Linked DNA regions of Homo sapiens. The protein of the gene in region 1 purifies or fractionates together with the protein of each later gene. This does not show direct contact. Each region holds a gene or a part of one and is shown on either strand. Other genes may lie near its edges.

Region 1 (5,930 bases):
ACTTTAAAGGATGTGACTATGGACCCAATTAGTGCCCAGAGTTTGCTTAACCCTTTCTTTTTTGCCCACCTATTTTCTCGTTTATATGTACTCTCTAGTAAATGGCTTTCCTCCTTTTACATACTTTTTTCTTACCCACCAAACCACATATTTTGCCAAGAGTATATACTTACTGGTGAGAAAATATATTTGTGGGTGTACTCCATTGGACATGTGTGTGTGTGTGTGTGTGTGTGTGTGTGTGTGTGTGTGTGTGTTTATATACTATTCTTAACCTATATACTTGCACATGTGCATCTATGAAATAAATGTTTTTGTATTTTCTTGTAAAAATGTTAATACAAGAAAGTGAAATCATAAGGAGAGGAAATAAGCTAATTTGATATGTGATAATTATTTTAAAAATATGTAATCTGTTTATTATGCTTTGCTTATTTACCTACTGTGGTCTCTGTTTTTCTCTTAGCAATATATTTAATATAAAGATAAAAATCCTATGTCATATTTACTTCCCAAATACATAAGCCCTTTTTAAAAATGTCAAACTTGTTGATTTTTTGGTGTGTGTTTGCCTTATCTGTCTTTAGGCTGAGAGATGTCCCTCACTGAGACCACTAGTTTTCCAAACAACGAACAATGAAGGACAGATGACATCGCCTAAGCTGAGTCTTCACTGCAGGTCCATCTCAAATCTTGACCAGCTCTATAATTTGCCCGGGTAGAAGAACAAGGGGTGGTGTGGAGGTTCCATTTCATGCCCAAGTCAGTTGGAAGTCCAAAGTACCTACCATTCTTAACCAGCAAGGAAAAACCAGAACTGGCAAGAGCTCTAGACCAGACTACAGATGAGACCCAAAGTGGGCTACCTGGTACATCCTGTCTGTGCGACAGGTCTTTTTTTTTTTAAACTGCTCCTTGGCGAGTAGGGCTACTCCACAGGCACTGTGCCCAGAGTAGCCTCCAACAGGTCTTTTGGTCCTATGGTAGATGCCTCTGATCCTAACTTATAGCTAGTTCCCCCCAACAGCCAACAGACTCTGACAGGCCCACACACTTTTTTTTTTTTTTTTTTAAGACAGGGTCTCACTCTATCACTCAGGCTGGAGTGCAAATGCGGAAGCAATCTTGGCTCTCTGCTGCCTTGACTTCCCGGGCTCAGGTGATTCTCCCACCTCAGCCTCCAAAGTAGCTGGGACTATAGGCACGTGCCACCATGCCCAACTAATTTTTTGTATTTTATGTAGAGACAGGGTTTCACCATCTTGCCCAGGCTGGTCTTGAACTCCTGGCTCAAGTGATCTACCTGCCTTGGCCTCCCAAAGTGCTTGGATTACAGGCATGAGCCACTGCACTTGGCCAGGCTGACTCTTTAGACTGGATGCTTCATATAGGGCACCTGGCCACATCTCAGTGCAACTATACATGCCCTGAGGGTTGCTTGAAAGTCATACCACACCTGTAAGAAATGGCAAGCATTTGATCTTTATTTTCAGTACATACACTAAAGCGGAGAAGCTGAAGAATTTGGGTTTTAATATTAGCCAAGAAGAAGGGTAGTGTCTGAAAGAATGGAGGATCAACACATACCTGATTTCGAAGAGGCTGCTGTTGTGATGGCCGATCCCTATGTGTGTGGCTTTCTCGAGTTATTGCAGATGCACCAGAATCTACGTGAACTGACCCTACTGGAGTAGGCTAGAAAAATGAAACAAAAAGTCAAATGGGGGAAACAGGTCCAACTTGATGCATATGCAAAGGACAGAATGATTCTAATTCTAATAGAGTAGTAGTAATTATTTTCAGCTACCAAGAGCACTTTCAAGTTGTCTTGTCTTCTCAGTTTGCTCATCTGCAAAAGGGAGGCAGCCTGGTCCTTAATAGTTCATTGGAGAGTAGCTTACCTTCGAAAACAAAAAACCAGGGCCGGGCGCGGTGGCTCGTGCCTGTAATCTCAGCACTTTGGGAGGCCGAGGTGAGTGGATCACCTGAGGTCAGGAGTTCGAGACCAGACTGAGCAACATGGAGAAATCCCATCTCTACTAAAAATACAAAATTAGTCAGGTGTGGCAGCGCGTGCCTGTGATCCCAGCTACTCGGGATGCTGAGGCAGGAGAATCGCTTGAACCTGGGAGGCGGAGGTTGCGGTGAGCTGAGTTCACACCATTGCACTCCAGCCTGGGCAACAAGAGTGAAACTCCGTAAAAAAAAAAAAAAAAAAAAAAAAAATTTCCTCCACTGATATCTGTTTGGCCCTGTGAACCCCTGACCAGAACAACAAATTCAAAAGCTTCCTATGATGCTGGGTTCCACTGCTACAAAGGTCAAGTACATTAACAGCGTATGTGGCATCAACTTCTGAATCATGGGGCCAGGTGTGGTGGCTCACGCCTGTAATCCCAGCACTTTCGGAGGCCAAGGAGGGCAGATCACCTCAGGTCAGGAGTTTGAGATCAGCCTGGCCAACATGGCAAAACCCCGTCTCTGCTAAAAATATAAAAATTAGCCGGGCGTGGTGGTGTGTGCCTACAATCCTAGCTACTTGGGAGGCTGAGGCAGGAGAATCGCTTGAACTCAGGAGGCGGAGGTTGCAGTGAGCCGAGATTGGCGCCATTGCACTCCAGCCTGGGAAAACAAACAAACAAACAAACAAACTTCTGAATCATTCAAATGAAACTTCTCCTAAAAACTGGGCTTAAATTCTGTTATCTTAGGACACACAAGTTATTATCTTCCTATATTACTAGGAAAAAATACTTCCTACTTCTGAACTAGTAAGAGCAACCTATGGCAACACCCAGACAAGGCTAGTAAATATACAGTCTACGATCAAAGGAATATTTTTACCAAAGATTCAAGCAGAAAGACTGGCAAGTAAAGGCATGAGGCAGTGCTGGTTGGAGAAAGGAGGTAATGAGGTTAAAAAAAAAAAAAAAAAAGGATACTTACAATAGGTCTCCCAACCCAATCATAGGCATAGTCAAAGGTGTAGCCTTTCTTTTCAAAGAGGTCTGTGAAGAGGGTCCGTAAATACTCATAATCAGGTTTTTCAAAGAAGTCCAGTCGCCTGACATATCGAAGGTAGGTTGCCATCTCCTCTGTTAGGAAAGAGATGAAAGGCCCTGCTCATTAGCTGAATGCTTTCCATAGCAGTTGTGGGGAAGCATTGGGCCACAAAGGGGTTATTTATACAGACAATTTGACACTGATGTTTTCTTTACTGACAAAATAAAAGTGATAAAACCTACTTTGGTCTGTATCACAAAAGGAAATGTTAATTACCTAAACAGCACCCCTATCTAGAGATACCCAGTCATGGACTCTACCTAGTTTCAAAGCTCAGTCACACTGGAATGTCTTTTTAGCATCCCACCTGGAAAGTTCTCACAGAGAGCTTCAATGGGAGTATTCCTTTTGGTGTCACCAATTTTTTGATATCTCTCTTTTAATGTGTCAGCCTGTAGAGAGTAAAGAGAGAAAGTTACTTTAAAAGAGGGCCTAAACATGGGAGATTCAATATGTTTTTGGACACAATGGTTGTTTCACTCAAATTCGCAGTATTTGTTGGTCTTGATTTTTTTTCTAACACTAACAAATAAGAAATGTAGTAGAAATTATATATTTAGATATATACAAACATCTGCTGTGTTCTGGAAAATTTTACTTGTGAAAATATTTAGTTGTCTCAGATAAACACCATCAAATATAATGGATGAGTGGCTAGGATAAGAAAATAACAATATTATGTGGCCAATATTTTCAAAATTGCAGAAGCTTAGTAATATCCCATGGCCACCATAATTCAATATGATTCAGCATTCTCTCTTAGATCAGCTCTAAAAGTACTGCTAATCCAGGTGGGGGAAACAGATAAGTAATTCTACTACACATATATTGAGACTTTGAACAGAAAAAAAACAATAACTGAAAAATGTCTTTCAACAATGTGCTTCCAGAGGGAAAAAAGTTGTCTATGGTACAGCCATGGCTAACAGGTTTGGTGTATGTCAGTAACTCAAAAGCAGCCCAAGTCTGGTATGCTCAGAGCTATAGCCAGAGGGCTTCTGAACCCTGGATCAACAGTGGGCTCCTAGGGAATTCTTGTCAGGCTTTACCTAGCTTGCTGCACTCAGACTTAAGCAATAGTGTTCTGAAGTAAATAGGAGAAATTTTAGATCTACAACTACCACTAAAATGATTTATGGACAACGAGAGAGTTTCAAGCAATTAATAATACACTAATGCATTGTGTGGCTGTATGATGACCAAGTTTGACATGAAACTCTATTTGAAAGCTATAAAAATCAATGAGAAGATGTATATGACAGGAGAGGAATTTAAGAGTGAAGAAATAAAATCTCAAAGGGAATGGGTGGAAGTCTTACGTTTTAGGACAATAGTCTAGAAAGCCTACAGCAAAATGAACCATCCTGCCTTTCTGGAAGAGGGGGTGTAGGAGTACCCCAAACTACTGATTAAGTTTCTTTCCATATTAATATGTTGAAATAAATTACAACCAAAAAATATGTCTTGGGCCAGGCGCGATGGCTCATGCCTGTAATCCTAGCACTCTGGGAGACCTAGATGGGTGATCACTTGAGGTCAGGAGCTCGAGACCAGCCTGACCAACATGGTGAAACCCCGTCTCTACTAAAAATACAAAAAATTGGCTGGGTGCAGTGGCTCACGCCTGTAATCCCAGCACTTTGGGAGGCCGAGGCAGGCGGATCACAAGGTCAGGAGTTTGAGACCAGTCTGGCCAATATGGTGAAACCCCGTCTCTACTAAAAATACAAAAATTAGCCGGGTGTGGTGGCGTGTGCCTGTAGTCCCAGCTACTCAGGAGGCTGAGGCAGGAGAATTGCTTGAACCCAGGAGGCGGAGGTTGCAGTGAGCCGAGATTGCACCACTGCACTCCAGCCTGGGCAACAAAGCGAGAGTCCGTCTCAAAACAAAAACCAAAAAATTAGCTGGGCGTGGTGGCATGCACCTGTAATCCCAGCTATTCAAGAGGCTGAGGTAGGAGAACCGCTGGAACCTGGGAGGTGGAGGTTGCAGCGAGCCCAGCCTGGGAAACAGAGTGAAACTCTGTCTCAAAAAAAAAAAAAAAAAAAAAAAAAAAAAAAGTCTCACAAGATACTAATGGGACTTACAATGGGTTAGAAGCTCACCATTTCCTAGCCAAACAGCCAAAGGCACAGAGTAATGATAATGCTCATAATTATAATAGTAAACTGACATGTAACCACTGTACTGACACCTACCTAAGGAAGGCTATTTAAACTCTACACATTTTGCAATGAATAGATATTGTCTGAATAGGCATTTATTCAATAATACACTTGAAAAGCAATCTTAAACCTGGATTTTCATTTTAGTTCAGGTGAGTTCTTAGCCTACATAGGATAAACAAATATTTTCCAAGTTTTCCTGAGGAGTACACCCTGCTGGCCTTTCTGGTAAAATGTGTAGCAGCTGTTGTCAACAATTTGTTCCAGAAATTCCCTTACATACTGGGAACACTCCTCCTGCTACATAATGGTAGTGGAGGAGGAATACCAACACAGAGAGAAAAGCAGCACTGTCAAGCCTGGGAGGAAATGAGGGAAAAGATCATGGAAAATCCAAGAACAAGGAAAAATTAAGAAACGGAAGACAAATGTGAACAAAACAGTTTCCAAAGCCCAGGAGAGCATTTATAATGTAGACTAATGTAATTAGTCCCTGCTTCTTATCTCCAGAGCCAATTAGCCAATAATCCTTTTTGTGTGTTGTTTTAAAAAAATATTTATTTGTTTATGTTTAAATAGAGATGGGGTCTCACTATGTTGCTGATCTCAAACTCCTGGACTCAAGCAATCCTCCCACCTCAGCCTCCCAAAGTGCTGGGATTACAGGCATGAGCCACCGCATCTGGCCAGCCCCCTACACAT
Region 2 (5,930 bases), on another chromosome or scaffold:
CTGACCCCTTGATCAATGTAGTAAAGAATTAAACACACCTGCATGCCCATCTGCCACTCCCATTTGGCAGCTTCCAATGATGAACTGGCTACTGCCTAGATTCGTTTTTATGTCAAACAGTCAACAGCACATTAACTACAGCTACTACGATTAATAAGAAGACTGAAATCAGCCAGTGGCAATTCAACAATTTTAACAAACATTCATCAAGTGTCTATTATGTGCCAAGTACCACATTAGGCTCCAGGGAATCTGAGATGAGAAAGCAGTGCAAGGAATCCCTGAGCAAAAGATACAGTCCCAGCTCCAGTACCTACCTACAAACTTGGTAAGCTGAGACAAGTCATTTACCGTTATGTATCTGTATATGTAGCCATAGCATGGAGATGATGGTATAAAAGTACACTGCAGACTGTTGAGTGCTGTGCTTTCAATTGCACATCTACCAATGGCTCTAATACAGCAGTCCCCAACCTTTTTGACACCAGGGACTGGTTTCATGGAAGACAGTTTTTCCACAGGGAAGTTAGGGGTAGGGGGGTTGGTTTTGGGATGACTCAAGTGCATTACATTTATTGTGTACTTTATTTCTATTATTATTACATTGTAATATATAATGAAATAATTATACAACTCACCATAATGTAGAATCAGTGGGAGCCCTGAACTTATTTTTCTGCAACTAGATGGTCCCATCTGGGGGTGATGGGAGACAGTGACAGGTCATCAGGCATTAGATTCTCATAAGGAGCACGCAACCTGGATCTCTTGGCATGAGTAGTTCACGATAGAGTTTGAGCTCCTATAAGAATCGAATGCCAGCACTGGTCTAACAGGAGGTAGAGCTCAGGTGGTAACACGAGTGATGGGGAGTGGCTGTAAATACAGATGAAGCTTCACTCACTCTTCCACCACTCACCTCCTGCTGTGCGGCCTGGTTCCTAACAGGCCATGGACAGGTGCTGGTCTGTAGCCTGGGGGTTGGGGACCCCTTGTCTAACAGACCTCTCCTCTGTCACTGCACTAGCCTAGGCTGCCTTGGAGGCGGCCCTCTGTCCATATTCAGTGGTCAAGTAGAGTGATATTTCATGTGACCTCAGGATGCAGTCCCTTGTTCTTTTATAAAAGGAAACCCGAGGTCTTTGGAGCGTGGGTAGGGCAGGCAGGACTGGTTGAGAACATCTTACGGTCAGGAAGGACAGGAAGTGCTCAGAGGGTCTGCCTACTTTTGGTGCTGACGAAGAAACAAGGCAAGCGGGGAATATCAGGGAGGCGGAGCTCTGATAAGTTGAATGTACAAAGCAGGATTGATTGGAATAAACTGGGTTTGTAAAAAACCTTGTGCCCATAACCCAAAGTCATGCAACACATCTTTTTTGAGCGCTTACTACATGCAAGGCTCTGTTCCACACACTGGGAATACAGCAGTGAAGAGAACAGACAGCATGCTGCCCTCACAGAGCTCATCAAAATGGGAATACCAGTGAAGTTTATGCCAATAGTTCCTAAGTTACTGAAACCAGAAAAGGATATACATTTATAAAACAAAATTCTGAAGAGTCTTATATTATGCTTTGGTGATTTGCCAATCATCAGTTGTTTCCCTATTCACCCTCAAAGTGCTCTAGTGTGGTTAAAGAATAACTGTGAAGAAATCAATGACTACCATAGTAACACATCTCCAGGAGTGCACTCAGATTCCCAAAAGCACAACAGAGTGGCTTTTAAAGACTTACATAGCAGGAGCAGAAAGGCCAAAATCATGAGCGCAATTGCTGCGGGTCCCAGGCCCACATAGGAGTCATGCTGTGCTTCCCTGCAGCCGCTGCCATGCAGACACTCACAAACTGTGAGTGTAAGGACCTGCTTTTCAGGACAACTAAAACCCTGATTGTCTGAAATCAGGAACTGAATTTCACTTCTCCCAAGCTTTTTCTCACTTTGTTGCAGCAGCACACTGGTACCTACAAGGTTGGGAGGCAGAAGGAAATAAAAACGAACGATTACCAAGGATGAGGCAACATTAAATTCCACAAATGTTCTTTCATTGCTGATTGTATTTAACTCCAATTAGGTACTTTGTTCTTCCTTCACTTATTGAAGTGTGCTCATTAAAATTTGTCTATAGGCCCTGAATATGCAGTTTAAATAGCAAAGGTTCAGACCTGGACACCTACTTTCATGATGATTAGCTGTAACCAATGTGTGTGGGTCTAGGAAAGCTAGGAACTGTTCTATACACTGGGAATACAGTGACAAACAAGTGGTGAGTTAACATTTCTACTGAATGACCTTTATTTTACCATTTCTTTAAAAAAAAACTTCATTAAGGCAATTTTTCAAACATAGTAATAAAGAGAAGAGCATAACCCCCATGGTACCCATCCTCAGCGTTAATCATTTTCAATGATGGGCTGATCTTGTTTTCTCTAGTCCCTTCTTTTTTTGTTCTCAACACTATATACATTCAAAATGGAAAAAAAATTCAAACCTACAGAAAAGTTGAAAGAATATTTTAGTGAATATTAACAAACCCTTACTAACTGTTTACATTTTGCAACAATGCTTTCTTTGCCCTCTATATACCCACTTTTTCTTTTTTTTAAAGTTTCTTAACTATTTCAAGGTAAGTTACAGATAGCACGACATTCTTCAGCATGCACCTTCTAAGATCAAGGAACATTAGCACTCTTACACTTCTTCTTCTTCTTCTTATTTTTTGAAATGGAGTCTCGTTCTGTTGCCCAGGCTGGAGTGCTGTGCTGCCATCTTGGCTCACTGCAACCTCTGCCTCCCAGGTTCACCTGCCTCAGCCTCCTGAGTAGCTGGGATTACAGGTGCCCACCACCATGCCCAGCTAATTTTTGTATTTATAGTAGAGATGGAGTTTCACCATGTTGGCCAGGCTGGTCTCAAACTCCTGACCTCAAGTGATCCACCCGCCTCACCCTCCCAAAGTGCTAGGATTAAGGCATGAGCTACCATGCCCGGCTTCAACTTGTTATTGATAATATTCTGTAATATACAACTCAGTGTATTTGTAAGTTAAATTTATTAGAATTTTAGAGTATAAGGATCATAGGGAGTTTTTTTTTTGAGACAGAGTCTTGCTCTGTCACCCAGGCTGGAGTGCAGTGGCACAATCTCGGCTCACTGCAAGCTCTGCCTTCTGGGTTCATGCCATTCTCCTGCCTCAGCCTCCCGAGTAGCTGGGACTACAGGTGCCTGCCACCACGCCCGGCTAATTTTTTGTATTTTTAGTAGAGACGGGGTTTCACCGTGTTAGCCAGGATGGTCTCGATCTCCTGACCTCATGATCCGCCTGCCTTGGCCTCCCAAAGTGCTGGGATTACAGGCGTGAGCCACCGCACCTGGCTGGGAGGTTTTGTTAATTCAGATCACTGAAATATATAAGGAAACTAAATATATTAAATCTGTAAATACAGTTTGAAATATTGATGGTGTTTAATTTGTTAATTGGACTAAACATTATTCAAACCCTCTTAAAATGATTTCAAACATTTGCTAGACTTAACACAATAAAGCTGTAAATTAAAAAAAAAACTGACTATTGTCTTTGAAATTTTACTGAAATGAACCCTAGTTGTTTAAAACAAAATAGTTTTCTGGATAGACTTTTCTGCATTCAGAACCACCCTGAAGGACATCTGAAAACTCACATCAACACATCATATGGTCCATGTGTCTAGATGTCCTGGATGTGGACATATGGACATGTCCACTGACATGGGGAAGGGGGGAATCAGATAACTCCCCTGTTATGTTGTTTCTATCATGTTCTAGGTTTGAGCTTTACTTACCCCCAGTTAAACCAAGGTATCCTCAGCTTTAATCAGGGAATAATGTTGAAGGAAGGATTAAATATGGTAATACATAGGGTGGGCTAGCAGAATGCCTAGCACATAGCAAGTGCTCAATAAATGTTGTTTTAAATGGAATTACTGTTACTACAAGATTTTTAGAAGGCAAACTACTACGATTGTGGTGCTGACAAAGGCTTGGTACTCCTCACCTTACCAGACAAAACTACTTCAAGGGCTATTTAGGGAATACCCAGCTACCTTCAAGACATTTTAGATTATTTTTCTTCTCTCCATAAGCATATAAAAGATACTATATGTCAGTAGGTTCAGGACCTCATTTCATAAACTCCTTTAAAAAACTATATTGGAAATATAATTTATGAGAAGAAATACAACTTACAAATATTTTAGATATCATGCTTAATATTTAGATTTCTATGTAGTCCAGTGATTTTGCTTACTTTCTTGGCGTGCTATTTTCCATTTTTCTGCCATGCCAGGTGGTTTGTCAATGACGGAGAAACTGAAAGGGCCACTGTTTGGGTGTCCATCCAGGTCCTCTGCAGTAACATTCACATACTCTGCATCGTGACAGATTGTCTGCACAGGCTCTATCAGTGTGGGACAGTTGTCGTTGATGTCTTCAACATTGATAAGGACTGTGCCAGTGATGGTTTTTCTAGGATAATCTTAAAAATAAGAGAGAAAAAGTATGTACATTCTGTTCCTATTGCTGACAACAGACATAGTTTGAATTCCCTTGCCAATTTGGAGTGGAGAAGGTACTAACCACTTAGGACATTTTCTATCCTAGATATGTTTCAAATTTGGACCAAGTAATATCTTTTAATCCACTTACCAAGTAGAAATGTGAGATTTATCTACTGGAGAAATTAGGTGCTTATTTCATCTTACTAAAAAATTTTTTTAGACATCTATTTTTAAATTTTATCTACCCCTCAATTTTTTTTTGAAGATGGTGTCTTGCTTTTTTGTCCAGGCTGGTCTCAAACTCCTGGGCTCAAGTGTTCCAACCATCTCAGTTGCCTGAGTAGCTGGGACTACAGACACAAGCAACTGTGCTGGGGTGAGATTAGGTTTTTGTTTTTGTTTTTTTTTTTTTGAGTTGGAGTCTCCCTTTGTCTGGCGCGATCTCCGCTCCTCTACCTCCTGGGTTCAAGCAATTCTCCTGCCTCAGTCTCTTGAGTAGCTGGGACTACAGATGCATGCCACCATGCCCAGCTAATTTTTGTATTTTTAGTAGAGACGGGGTTTCACCATGTTGGCCAGAATGGTCTCGATCTCTTGACCTCGTGATCCACCTGCCTTGGCCTCCCAAAGTGCTGGGATTACAGGCATGAGCCACTGCTCCCGGCCGAGATTAGGTTTTTATACACAATCAAATCAATGGTTTCTGATGTTGGAAAATAAAAATCTAAATACATATAATCAAGAAAAAGATCTATTTAATAACTTACCTTCTGATATGGCCACAATCTTTACAGTGTATGTGCCATTTTGAACATATCTAGATTCAAAATCAGGAAGTTTTGCAAGTTTAATTTCAGATGTGACAGAATCCACAGAGATCCAATTATCTCTATCTTCTAATTTTACATATCTGTCATAAAACAAACATAAAATTAATTTTGAATTCTGCATGAATTGGAAACCTCTAACATCTACAGCTCTTTCAAGCTTACTTTTCTTCTCTTTAAATATGTTCTTATTACAGGCATTTGTTTTGAATGTTTTTAATTTTGCAAAACCATCCTAAAAGCCCCTCTCTTTACTGCATGTCACACTTAAATTGGACCTTTCTTATTCCTGCAACATACCCAAGACATAAAATTAAGGGTGATTCTCTTGAGCCCACTAACCACTAACTCAAGTTTTTAAGTTGCTCTGCAGTCTGTCCTATGGCATTTGATTTAGTGTCCCTTAAAGTTGGGTTAAACTTTTGGGGAATAACTTAGTTATACAATAAGCACTGGTGGAGAAGAGCAGTCTTATGTTCTGTTGTTTATTGGGGGCGTTAGCAACATTTACAAACATCAACTTTAAAAATCAATGATCGCAGGGGCCAGGTGCGGTGGCTCACGCCTG
Region 3 (5,930 bases), on another chromosome or scaffold:
TCTTTCCCATCTTTAGCTCTGTGTGATTACTCTGGCTTTTGTACGAGCAAGCCCTTGGAGATTTTAGACTACTTTATTGGAGAAAGTACTTGAATTAGCAATTGGCTAGCTTTTGACATTACTGAGCAGAACCCCAGGATTCTGATAAACAGTCCTCAAATTCGAATTTAATCTCAGAATTTTGGCAGTGATAGAAGTCTACCAAGAAAACTTGTTAGCTTGCTGAAAAACACAATTGAGCTAAACTCAAATGCTAAATAAATTTCAGCATGAAAAAATAGGGATGCTTATTTAAAAAGGAAAATACCGTACATTTTAGGAAAATGGGCTGCTGGTTCCATTTATTTCAATTCCATAAAACTACATTGAATGCTTATAGTCTAAAAATGGCCTATTCTCAGCTCTGAGGAGTTACAAATTCAGAAATACCTCCATCTCTGCTCTCCCTGAGTTCACAGTGGAGGAGAATAGAAGGGGCATGGACAAAATTATTAATCTAAGGCAGAATATGATGGATAATATGAGATCCATTCCCATAAAGTAGGGAAAGAGGAATTCTAAGAGGGTGGGAGGGGGATAACAGATAGTTTCAAAGAGGTCAGCTGGGGGCTGGGTTTGAAGAATGGATAGAATATTTGACAGGTAAAAAGGGATTTTTTTTTGACAGGAGGAAAGTGATTCCCTTAAGGAAGACCTTGTGAGTCAAGGGTGGTGAAGTACAAAGCAAGTTCTGAGAATATGAAATAGTCTGATTGGGCTGGTCTTTTAGTGTAATAGAGAAGCTGATCATTAGAGGAAAATATGGCCCAGAAGGTAGGTTGGGCAGACCATTGAGGGTCCTGAGTTCCAGAGTAATTAGTTTGGACCTGGTTCTATAGGCAATTGGTAGCTATTGAAGGATTTTAATCAGATGGGCTTGGGGAGGTATAAGAATGGAATTGGAAACAGGAAAATGAGCCAGGAAGCGTTGGTATTATCTAAGAATCTGTGGCAGCAGTCCAAAAGAGGTGCAACAGGGGCCTTAACTAGAGCTGTGGCAGTGAGATGGGAAGAAAGGTTGGGATCGATATGAAAATAATGTGGAAGAAATGAAAGGACTGGGTCATCATTTAGAAATAAAGAAGAAAGTCAAGGCGTTAATCTAGATAAAAGGGACCAAGGTAATCCCTTTAATCAAAGTAGGGACCACAAGAGGAGTGTGTTAAGTTTATGCATCGATTTTGGATTTGAGGTGCTTCTTAGGATATCTATATAGAAATATCTAGTAGGTCAATGAAAATGTATGAGCTCATGGCTAGATATGATTGAAATTGTAAGGATAGGGTTCACTGTGGGGGGACAGTATAGAGTCAAAATAACTGAATACAGAAACATAACAAAATTCTACAAGGCAGGGATAGGAGCATTCAGAGACAAGGAGCAATCTGAGAGGCAGGGGAGAACCAGGGGCATGTGGAGGTATAGAATCCTTAGCACCAGAGAGCTTAAGGGCATGATGGGCAAATGGAAAGATCAAGCTGAGTCAGGGGAAGCCTTCTGATGGCTATTTCCATGGAAGGGTGGCAGCAGAAGCCAAGGAGCACTGAGCTGAGTAGTAGTGTGAGATGGGGATTGAAGGCAGAAAATACACACAACTATTTGAGAAATGTGGCAATGAAAAGAAAGCCAGACATGGGGAAAAGTGAGAGTTCAGGATACCAGAATTAAGAAAAGTTGTTTTTGTTGTTGTTACTTAATGGTAAGACCTAAGTAGATGTGTGGACAGAGAAAGGAACAGTAAAAGAGGGAGAGGTGGAAGATTTCTGAAGAAAAATAATCAACTGAATCGAATGAGATGCATACTCCTGTTAGAAAACTGGGGCTGAGGGGACAATAAAATTTTTAAAAGAACAATTTAAACAAGGAGTAGTAGAGTGCAAAGAGCACTGGACTCAGACTTTTGATTTCCAAGTTCTGATCTTAGCTTTGCTACTTACTATCTCTGTGACCTTGGGCAGTCACTGCTTCTCTCTGGGACCCCGTTTCCTGATCTATAAAATTATCTTTAAGGTCCTTCCTAGCAGTGACAATGGCATGTCACCTACTTCTCAATGTTAACTTTTCTCTTCCCTGACTTTCTTTCAGGTATCGTAGTGAAAAGATGACCCTGAGCTATGCTGAATACCTTGCTCATCGCCAGCATCATCATTTCCAAAATGGCATTGGGCATCCCCTTCCGCCATACAACCATTATTCCTGACACTGAGCCGCACAACCAGTCACTGGGCCTCTCTGCAGACCTCTTCCCAGGAGACCCTACACCTTCTTGGTCTAGCTATCTCTTTTACTGTACCATTTTATGATGATAGTTTCCGTTGCCATGGTGAAGCTTCGACATCGTCAACTAAGATCATCATGGTAACGGGTAGAAAAATGGCATTTGTTAAGATCCTGTTTTATTATTTTAGATCGTTGATTTTTTTTTTGCAGCATATATAATTTTGGGTTTTTTTTTCCTTATAATATTATGTAGAATTTTGCTTTGCTGTCTCAGTCAGGTTTCTGTTTTTCTGTCCTCCTTGCCTTTCTTCCCGTTTTGCTTCCTGTTTTCCTTCTTCCTTCCCGTTTTCCTTCTTCCTTCCCTGCCTCCCTTCCTTTGACTGTGGATGGAAGAAAGTGTGCAGTTTTTAGGGATTTTACTTAGGTTCGTCTTTAGTTTTCCTCAGTAAGATAGTTGTTTTTTGATACCTGAGTTTGGGATTAATTCATATCAAATTCAGGTATTTGTATATTACTCTTGATTTTTGTCTGAAATTCACTTTGCTATGACAGCCTAGTAGTTGGGTCTTCACTCCTTAAGTATATGTTTTTCCCATGGTGAAAATACATGAACTTTAGTTCTAGTAGTGAGCATTCAAAGGTCCGTGATAGGGCTTGTCACAGAGAGAGAGAAATCATTTATCCCTATTGTGCTGGTTATCATAGAAGAGACTGCCTCACCACTTTATAGAACCAATTTGCAAACTAAAACACTGTTTGGAGAAGGTACAAACTACCTTTCAAAAAGGCTACAGGAAACATTTTATGAGCAGCAAATATTAGGAAGAGAGCAGATACAGAATTTAGTGCCTTTGAGAAGAATATAATTAAGTGGAATTAAGAGGGGTTAGAAAAAAGGCAATTTAGAAAAATATTCTTGTAAAACTTTATTGTTTCTATATGTGAAACAGAAGATTAGACAAATTCCTTACTCTTAAGTATTTTTTTAAGCTGAAAAAAAATTATTTTGAGCAAATAACCAATAAGAGACATTTGTCTATTTTATATTAATTTAAATTTGTTAGCTCTAGGTTTCAATAAGTCATGATTGGCTAGAATCCATTTTAGCTACCATCTAAAGATATGGTAAAGATAATTTAGTAAAACAAAAGTTCATATTTGCCATGATTTCAGATATGTTTGTCATGGGGACAATATTAGAGTTTTAGAGATACTATAAAATAGCTTGAATTTCTTTCTGCACTACATACTTTTGATAGAAACACATTTACTACATTGATAAGATGTTATGTCACACCTGTGAAAATGGAGTTGGCATTCAGATATGCTATAGTTAGAGCCCAGCTCATCTGCAAGTATAGTCTTCCCATGATGCATACAAAGATAACTTACTGATGTCGATAGGAGGTCCATACATATATCCCCAGGAAAAATGACAGATTATTCTGGAGGAAGATGACCTTCATTTTATGGTTATGTGTGTGTGTCTGTGTGTCTTTGGAAAAATATATATAATTTTTTCAAATAGGAAGCCAACATATCAAGTGATGAATTAAAGTATGCTGCAGAATATATATTCTAAAACTACAAAAAAGTCACTGAATATCAAAATGATACAGCTTATACATATAGTTACTGTGACAAGTGACAGACTGCTAGTTCAGAATTCAAAAATCCTTTCCTAGTTTGTGAGATAATGGGCTAAATTCCTTCTGCCTGCCACTGGGGCAAAGCAAATTGCTTTAGTTTTTGATGAGAGTTCTTAGAAGTTTGTTGGTATTCCTTCATCCACAGCATCCATTGTTGAAATAACCATTTTCAGTTGTGATGCCTTAACTAAGAAGCCAATTGTTAGCCTGAAATGCAATCTTGGTAGCCAGTTTCAATGAAGCTAGAGATTAGTCAGAAAAAGTTAGCTGTTGGGCTTTAGAAAGGGATTTTGAGTCCTGTCATTTCTACTTGGGAGCATTTTGGAGCAGATTAGTCTTTCAGTATAAAAACAAGTGGCTACCTGATGGAAACTTTTCTTACCCTTATAGGGAAACTGAGCACAAGCTGAATGATATTGTCTGCTGCAAAAAAAAACAAACAAAAAAAAAACAAAACAAAAAACAAAAAAAAGGAAAAAAAGGTAAATAAAACAAGCAAACTGAAGAGAGACAAAATAGACCAATATTATCGTGAAATCCATCTTATCCATCATCTCATCGGTTCAACAGGCTCCTCGTCCTGGGTGAGCTTATGGTTAGAAGTTTTTTTAGCAAAGATTTATTACATACATAGATGTGTGTGTGTACATATACTTACACATACATACATACATATATGTGTGTTTATTTAACGGTGCTAATCAATCTTGAGCAGGTCACGTGACTGGTCATGCGGACTCTAAAATCATATCAGATTTTTTAAAATCCTTGATATATGCAGATGTTATACAGATTTTCTTAGCAGTGTAATAACGTTAAACTGAAGAAATAACCATCCTGCAGGCTTCAAAGGACGAGGTCAGCAATATTTCCCAACATGGCTTGGGGGAAAAGGATAGTTTTGTCTCCTTTTGTATTCAAGTAATGCAAAGTGCATTTTTGTCTCTAAGTAGCTTTTGACTAAAAGACTTTGTAGTGTAAAGGGTGTTATACAAACTGTAATGGTGTGCTTCAAACAAATGCTAGACCCTTTCACCTTTGTCGTATATACAAAGCTGTTAATTATGTGGTATGAATTAACTTTGAACATGTTGAAATATGTAGCATGTCTTTAACTCAGACGAAGATTCTGATTGCACAGGTTGTGTTCTAGCCAGTTGTGATTTATTTGTTCAGAAACACAAATGTGAATTGCACTCTTATCATCAGAATATTGTATGAGTTCAGTGATCTTTAAACAGCTCAGAAGTAATACTTGAACTTCATTTGAGTAGCACAAAGTTTACATAGCCCCTTTTAAATGTTAATTCGTTCCATTTAAGTTTTCCATTTTCAGATGCAACTGGGTATTTTTCCTCTTGGAAATAGTACGTACTTTGCTTTGGTATGTAGCAAAAGGCTTCCATTTCTGGAAGGGTTTTCTTGTTCTTAAACAAGGTCAGCCAGGTACCAGATTCTAAAAGAACAAATTGTCCCCCACCCCTCAAGTGGCCTTCTGACTGCACGAGAATGTGCTACTACCCTCTGTAGTCTCCCCTAACACGAGAGGTCAGTGAAATTGATGGAGGAAGTGCAAGGCTTGCTTCCCCTCACCCTTAAAGCTTAAAGCAGTTGTAAGATTTTCAGTCCAGCACATACAGTCCCAGTGCCCAGCACACCGGAAGTTTGTATACTGGCCTCTTATCTTGTCTTCAAATGTGCAGGAAATTTGAAACTGTCATCTGGAATAGGTTCCATCTCTTATGTGTGTTAGATCAAACCAAAGAAGCCCCCAGCCATGCCCAAATGCTGCTTCAAAAGCCTGCCTTCCAGTCCTTACAAAAACCTTGCAGGATTAAATGTGTTAACTTTTTTATTTTTGTACAGTTTCTAAGTGATTTTTGCTAGTGATGTTAAAATGAATTAAGTTTATTTGAGGGGTGTGAGCACCTCCTCCATTTAAATAAACTGGTGACTTTCCTTTTATTTTTTAAAAGTGGAAACCCGTTGTGTGCCTCTCGATTTAAGGGTTTCTGATGACAT
Region 4 (5,930 bases), on another chromosome or scaffold:
CATTAACATAAACCAACTGTTGCAGACAGTTAAACTGTGGCTTTGTAAGGAGAATAAAGCCTGATAAAAAAAGTGACTTCTGCATATCATATATATGTATACATATATTTTCTCACATAGACGTCTAGTTATAAGTAAATCAACATTTAGCTACAACTTTTCCTCTCTTGGGTCCAGCATCAAAAGATTTGATATTCATGAACATGCCCTACACCTGGTTAGGAAGTTATGTATTTATACTCATAGCCTTTATTGTATCTGACCAGGGTGAATAAAATGAAATCTCCTGGGACCTCAAGTCCATTTCTTACCACTATAAGCATATTAACAGATATATATCAAAACATACTTGTTTACTGTTAGGTAAAAGAGCATGTTTCAGTACTAAATAATAAACTATGCCTGCTACCAATAACATGCACATAATGGTATAATAAAAGTAATTTTTCATGAAAATATTTTGAAAGAAGCTACATTATAAATATTTAAAGAAACGTTAAAAATCAGAGTGAAAATCAGATTAGTGTTCTGAAACTGAGTAGAAAAATAGACTTATAAAAAAAAGAATGTCTCATTAAGTGAAGCATTAAATGTAAAGTTGTCTTTTTAGTGTAAATTTCAAATCTCACCCTTTGAGAGGTAAAATCTTCCTCTCTCCTAAACAGGTACCTATAATTGATTTGGGAACTGGGCATATCGCAGAACGAAAAAGCAGATGACACAAGGCTAAGGGCAGTGCCGTGATTTTCACATGGCCTTAGAAAAGCGAGGGGCATTCATAAGGCTGAGTAGATAGCAACTTGGAGAAATACTGAATAAATGTGAGCAGTTTGAAAACAGTAATGCATTTGTCCACCCTAAATGAGCTAATACTCAAAGCCCAGACATTAGATTTTAAAAGGGGTTTGCTTTCCAGGACAGATTGTACAAAATTTGGGAAAATCGTTGTAAATAATTACTTCCTGGGGTTGATTCCTTTTTGAGGGGAAGTTTTTAACCTTTCCTTAGTAGTTACTTTTAATGAACTGAAGAAGAATTAAAGCATCAAAGGCCTAGTGTATGATTTGACTCCGAAGTGACCCTCTCTTCTACTTTGATAAAGTCAAGATACCTTATTGGCCATAGGAGATTCCTCCTTTTGGGGCTACCCCCATACCTGGAAATTCCAAGAGTGTGAGGGCTATATTTGGGCCCAGAGGAAAATCAAGGAACCCCATATCCAGCTGCTAAAGCCCTTGGGCCCAAGGAGTGTACCACTGAATCCAAGGCTCTCTTGGGTAGCCTATGTGCCTCTTGGATGGTATGTGAACAAGGTAGGGATGAAACTGCAGATGTCTGAAAAGAGCTTAAGCATCCTGACAGCTTGCATTTTTTTTTTAATTTTTTTTTTCCTCACCGTATTCCACATACCTGTGGCTGGGGAAGGTAATGTTACCTCTGCAAACAGATGCTCTGGTAAGAGAAGAAAGACACAGGGAAGGCAGAGAGAGCAAGACAGAGGGCTCAATCACAAAGCTGGGACAAGGAGAGCAGCTGTTTTTCACACATTCCTGCTCCTCTCTCAGCTGGGCTCATGTTCACTCCGTTTCATTCCAATCATCAGGGTGGAGATTTCAGAGGTGCCTATCCCTAATCCAGTAGAGAACATGAGCCCTGGGAGCACAGCTGCCTGGAGTCCTCCCAAGGGTCTCCTCCCCTTTTCCAGACTCAGCATCATTGAAGCCCTAACGGGTCCTTGTAAATTAATGTTTCATATTATCGAAGGACTGTCAGTTTAGTTTGGTACAGTTTATTGTAGCCTAAGAGGTCCAGCAAGATTTCAAGAGAGGAGAGATGATTGCATTACTTGATTACAATGAATACAATCTTTAGGATACTCTTTACTTTTTGTACAATAACGATATGAAAGGAATTTTTTATTCTACCTATACACAGCTCAAAATAAAGGTATAACTTCTGGAACTGAGAAACTGATGGTATGGAGAGAGGGACGTTTTCATAAGAAAATAGCTTTGATAAGTGTATACACAAAGGCATATATATATACACACAAACACCCCTCTCTCTTATATACTATACAGGCTGGCACACGCCTTATAAAGAATATAATATCAAGGCTTTAGGATTTCAATGAATTTTGGAATTTTAATTTGACAGGTGCTTAGGCCATTTAGGTCCTGACATATCGGAATCCCTTGTATTTCTAAAGTATATAATTATGTTTTTAAAAAGGCCCAGATCAACTTTCCTTAAACAGTAACCCAACATAAAGCCATAGTTACCAAGTGGAAAATAAGATTGTTATTCTGTATTAAATCAGTAAAGGGTATTTTAAGAGAAAGGACAACTTGGAAAATAGAGACTTCAGAGTCCATTATTCCAAGCTGAGAACATTTTAGTTATTAGCAGTGGTTACCAAATAAGCTGAAGGTAAATCTCTTCAAGGAGCTGCTCATAATTTGCGTTGTTGGGAAGAGGCGAGGAGCTGTTTCTCTATTCCACTATAAGATGATGCAAGTTTTTTTATCCTTGAAAGGGTTTTCTGAAGTTGGTATTCCTATCAGCAAAGGGTCACTCCTGGCATGTTCCTCACAGTAGGACATGAGGTCCGCTGATGCCTTCGAAACCTGACATGGAGATAAATCAAACAAACAAGAAAGAAAATATTTTACTTGCACACTTTCAGAGCGTATTTGAATGCTAGGCTATTGAATGGAAGACTGATTTGAACAAGATAATCAGAGTCTCAAAGCATCACTCTCAGATTCTTGTCAGGTATAAAAAGGAAATGGTACCTTTAAAATGGTGCAATTTGGCAGGTAAGGTCTTTCTTAACCAAGCAACTTAACAATGGTCAGACAAACTGGCACCATGTATCCCTTCATGGGAGTGCTGAGGACACACCGCCAGCTAATGAGCTAGCATTCCTGTCCAACATTGAACTGGAGTCCAATCAGCGAACGATCACACCCGAAGTGAGGGTGATTCTGCAAAATAAGTGGCCTGGATTCTTCAAAAATGGACTGTGTGTGAGGTATTCTTATTAGATAATCCTGAACTGCAAATAACTTTCAAGGGTTTAAAGAAGACATTATATATGTTTTGTGTGTATGTGTGTACAGACAGAAGGAGGGAGAGAGACAGTGCAAGCAAGTACATGTGGTCAAATGTTAAAAACTGGTGAATCCTGGTAAACGGTTTATAAATGTTTGTTGTTACAACTCTTCAGCAGGTTTGAAATGTCTCAAAATAAAAAGTTAGGGGCCAGGTGAGAAAAAGCATATGTGAATCAAGGGAAGGTTGTATCTTAAATTCTACCCAGAAAAAAACAGATTGGAATGCAGAACACACTTTAAGAACTGAACGATGGGCTCGGAGCCAAAACTCTGGAGCCAAGTTGTGGAGCTTCAGGATTTACTGTTAGAGATTGGGCTTGCGGAAGTAAAAAGAGAGACGAAACCAGCATGGGAAGAGGCAGTACCTTACTCCCGCATGAATTAAACACGGAAAATATCATGCCCTGTTTCAGAAGTCTGGGAGGGAGATCCTACAGAATAGGATCTCTTTGCCCTAAGCAAAGAGCAATGGGGCAGCTGAGCCCTGTCTAGCACAGCCCAGATAGCCTCATGCTGGGAAGACAGGTGACTATCTCCAGGCCCAGAGGAATGGATCAAGTGATTGCTTCAGTTTCTTTTTTCTTTTCTTTCTTTTTTTTTTTTTTTTGAGATGAAGTTTTGTTCTTGTTGCCCAGGCTGGAGTGCAATGGCGCGATCTTGGTTCACTGCAACCTCTGCCTCCTAGATTCAAGCAATTCTCCTGCCTCAGCCTTCCGAGTAGCTGGGATTATAGGCGTGCGCACGCCACCGTGCCTGGCTAATTTTGTATTTTTAGTAGAGACAGGGGTTTCTCCATGTTGGTCAGGCTGGTCTCGAATTCCCAACCTCAGGTGATCTGCCCGCCTCGGCCTCCCAAAGTGCTGGGATTACAGGCGTGAGCCACCGCGCCTGGCCAACTGCTTCAGTTTCAAGGAAGAACTAGTCATAACATTCCAGGGCACTCACTGCCTAGTTCTCTCTTGGGATTTAGGGGAAAAGACTTCGAAGTCAGGTGATCTAAGAAATGCATTCCAGTTTCTCTATGGGATCTCAACTAAAGCTCGCATTATTACTCTGGGCACAGAAAGTGGTCACTGAGGGCCAAACACATTTAAAAGCTTCATTTCCCTAAAAAGGAAACCTAGACTGCTGACTTCTTACGTGAAGCTGCCTCAGCTGCACTGATAATTCTAGAACACTTAAATTCCAAAGGAATGACTAGGGTGTTTATGAAGTCTACTTGGAACCCCTGTCCCACTTTAGAACACAGGGATCAACGGACTTGACCATGTTCATTCAGGGGAGACAGGTCCTTAGGAAATCCTGTCCAGAGTTTTACAAACAGAGAGGCTAATGCAGACACTTTTGAAGTGAGGCCCATGCTATATAGGAAAATGAAAGTTAGGATTTTGAGACTCTCAGCCTGTTCTGGAAAAATCCTGGAAGCAAGCGGAATGAAATGGTATTATCTTCTCTGACAAGTGGTCCAGCCACAAGGAACAGGGGGAACTGAGCAGAAAGCATATGTTATCCAGTCGGGGCTTCTTACCTTTATTCTTTCAATGGAGGCTTCTAATCTTAACTGCTGCACAGTTCTCCTTGCCTGGGCTATATTGTTGGTGCTTGCTGTTTTGCTGGACATCTTCAATTATTGTTTTTACCTGAAATCTGAGGAGAATTTTTTTTAAAGACAAGTAACAGGCATCTTTAAGTTATTTAAACATTCATAATAATATGTTCTACTTAAAGGGAAATAGATGGATTTTCCTAGTCATCACAGCTTCTTGGAGGCAGTTACTAAAACACCCCTTAGAAATTCGAGTGGTGACCTAGGTATCTAAGTTTGTCATCCATTTGAGCACCTACATAAATCTTTAGTTTGCAGAAACCCAGCACTAGCAGTTTAATCGATGCACCCCAACATATAACACAAAACTAGACTTTTCTAGGATTTCCTAAGAGGAAACAAATACGCAAACACTTGTAGCACTTAGGGGACCTGTGGCAAAAGTGAGCATTTGCTATGGGAGGCATATTACATGTCAGTTTAATATTACTGCTACCTACTTTCACAGAAGGTTTGATTTCATTTCTTTTGGGCTCTTGCCCCCAACTATTAGGCTGATCAAAGACTTGGCAACAGAAAATGAGAAGAGAGCTCCTCTAGAGAACTTTGAATAAAGGGTGCTTATTTTTAGACACTATCATGATGTGGAATCGTTTTGAAAGTGTTAGGCACATAAGGAAGTCTTTATTCATGAAAGAGTGAAAACTTTCAGTGGAGACTCTCCGTGATAGATCCACTGTAAATGTCAGGTGGGATATATGAGTAGCCTACAGTCTGAAATAATTAATAAAACGTTATTATTCCCTCCTTTGACCTCTCCCTGGTCTCATCGTGATGGTCTGGGCACTTGCTAATCCTATTACTCCATCATATGTTCGTGGATTGATTCTCCTCTCTAGCCTGAGCTGTTGGCCTCTAGGCTGCCCTGCTGCCCTCTCTCCTTAGCCACCTGGTGTAAAGCAATGGAAACAGAAACATCCTGGCCCTTGCTTTACAAACTGGTTGTCCAATAGCACATTTCAAGAGGAAGGCAGGCTGGGGGAAAAGTGTTGCCTGGTGCCCTGACCTATATGGCTAAGTTCATTCTCATCAGGGTGGCAACTGAAGGAAAACGCAGGGCTGGCAGGCCTGGTAGCAGTGTGGCAGTTTTATGACTCATGGGAGCAGGTGGACAGTAGGTGTGCCTCCCCGGCGCTATGTGAGGGCTCAGCAAAGTCTTAGGGCTCCGTGGCGCCAGCAGCAAACCCAGGCTGACTCAACCTTTTGGA

The links.
Region 2: the proteins of CSNK1G1 (region 1) and DSG2 purify together in Homo sapiens (affinity purification with mass spectrometry; one large-scale study listed by BioGRID and IntAct). This does not show direct contact.
Region 3: the proteins of CSNK1G1 (region 1) and AMMECR1 purify together in Homo sapiens (co-immunoprecipitation; one study listed by IntAct). This does not show direct contact.
Region 4: the proteins of CSNK1G1 (region 1) and GNG12 purify together in Homo sapiens (affinity purification with mass spectrometry; one large-scale study listed by BioGRID and IntAct). This does not show direct contact.

Annotation. Positions count from the first base shown.
Region 1 is NC_000015.10:64,201,495-64,207,424, forward strand, and holds part of CSNK1G1 (casein kinase I isoform gamma-1), read right to left. Parts: intron 3,456-5,930; coding exon 3,371-3,455; intron 3,096-3,370; coding exon 2,947-3,095; intron 1,696-2,946; coding exon 1,588-1,695; intron 1-1,587.
Region 2 is NC_000018.10:31,534,785-31,540,714, reverse strand, and holds part of DSG2 (desmoglein-2 preproprotein), read right to left. Parts: intron 5,446-5,930; coding exon 5,303-5,445; intron 4,514-5,302; coding exon 4,286-4,513; intron 1,965-4,285; coding exon 1,737-1,964; intron 1-1,736.
Region 3 is NC_000023.11:110,194,829-110,200,758, reverse strand, and holds part of AMMECR1 (nuclear protein AMMECR1), read left to right. Parts: intron 1-2,124; coding exon 2,125-2,239; 3' UTR 2,240-5,930.
Region 4 is NC_000001.11:67,702,950-67,708,879, forward strand, and holds part of GNG12 (guanine nucleotide-binding protein G(I)/G(S)/G(O) subunit gamma-12), read right to left. Parts: intron 4,764-5,930; 5' UTR 4,738-4,763; coding exon 4,645-4,737; intron 2,628-4,644; coding exon 2,502-2,627; 3' UTR 1-2,501. UniProt on the Homo sapiens protein: Guanine nucleotide-binding proteins (G proteins) are involved as a modulator or transducer in various transmembrane signaling systems.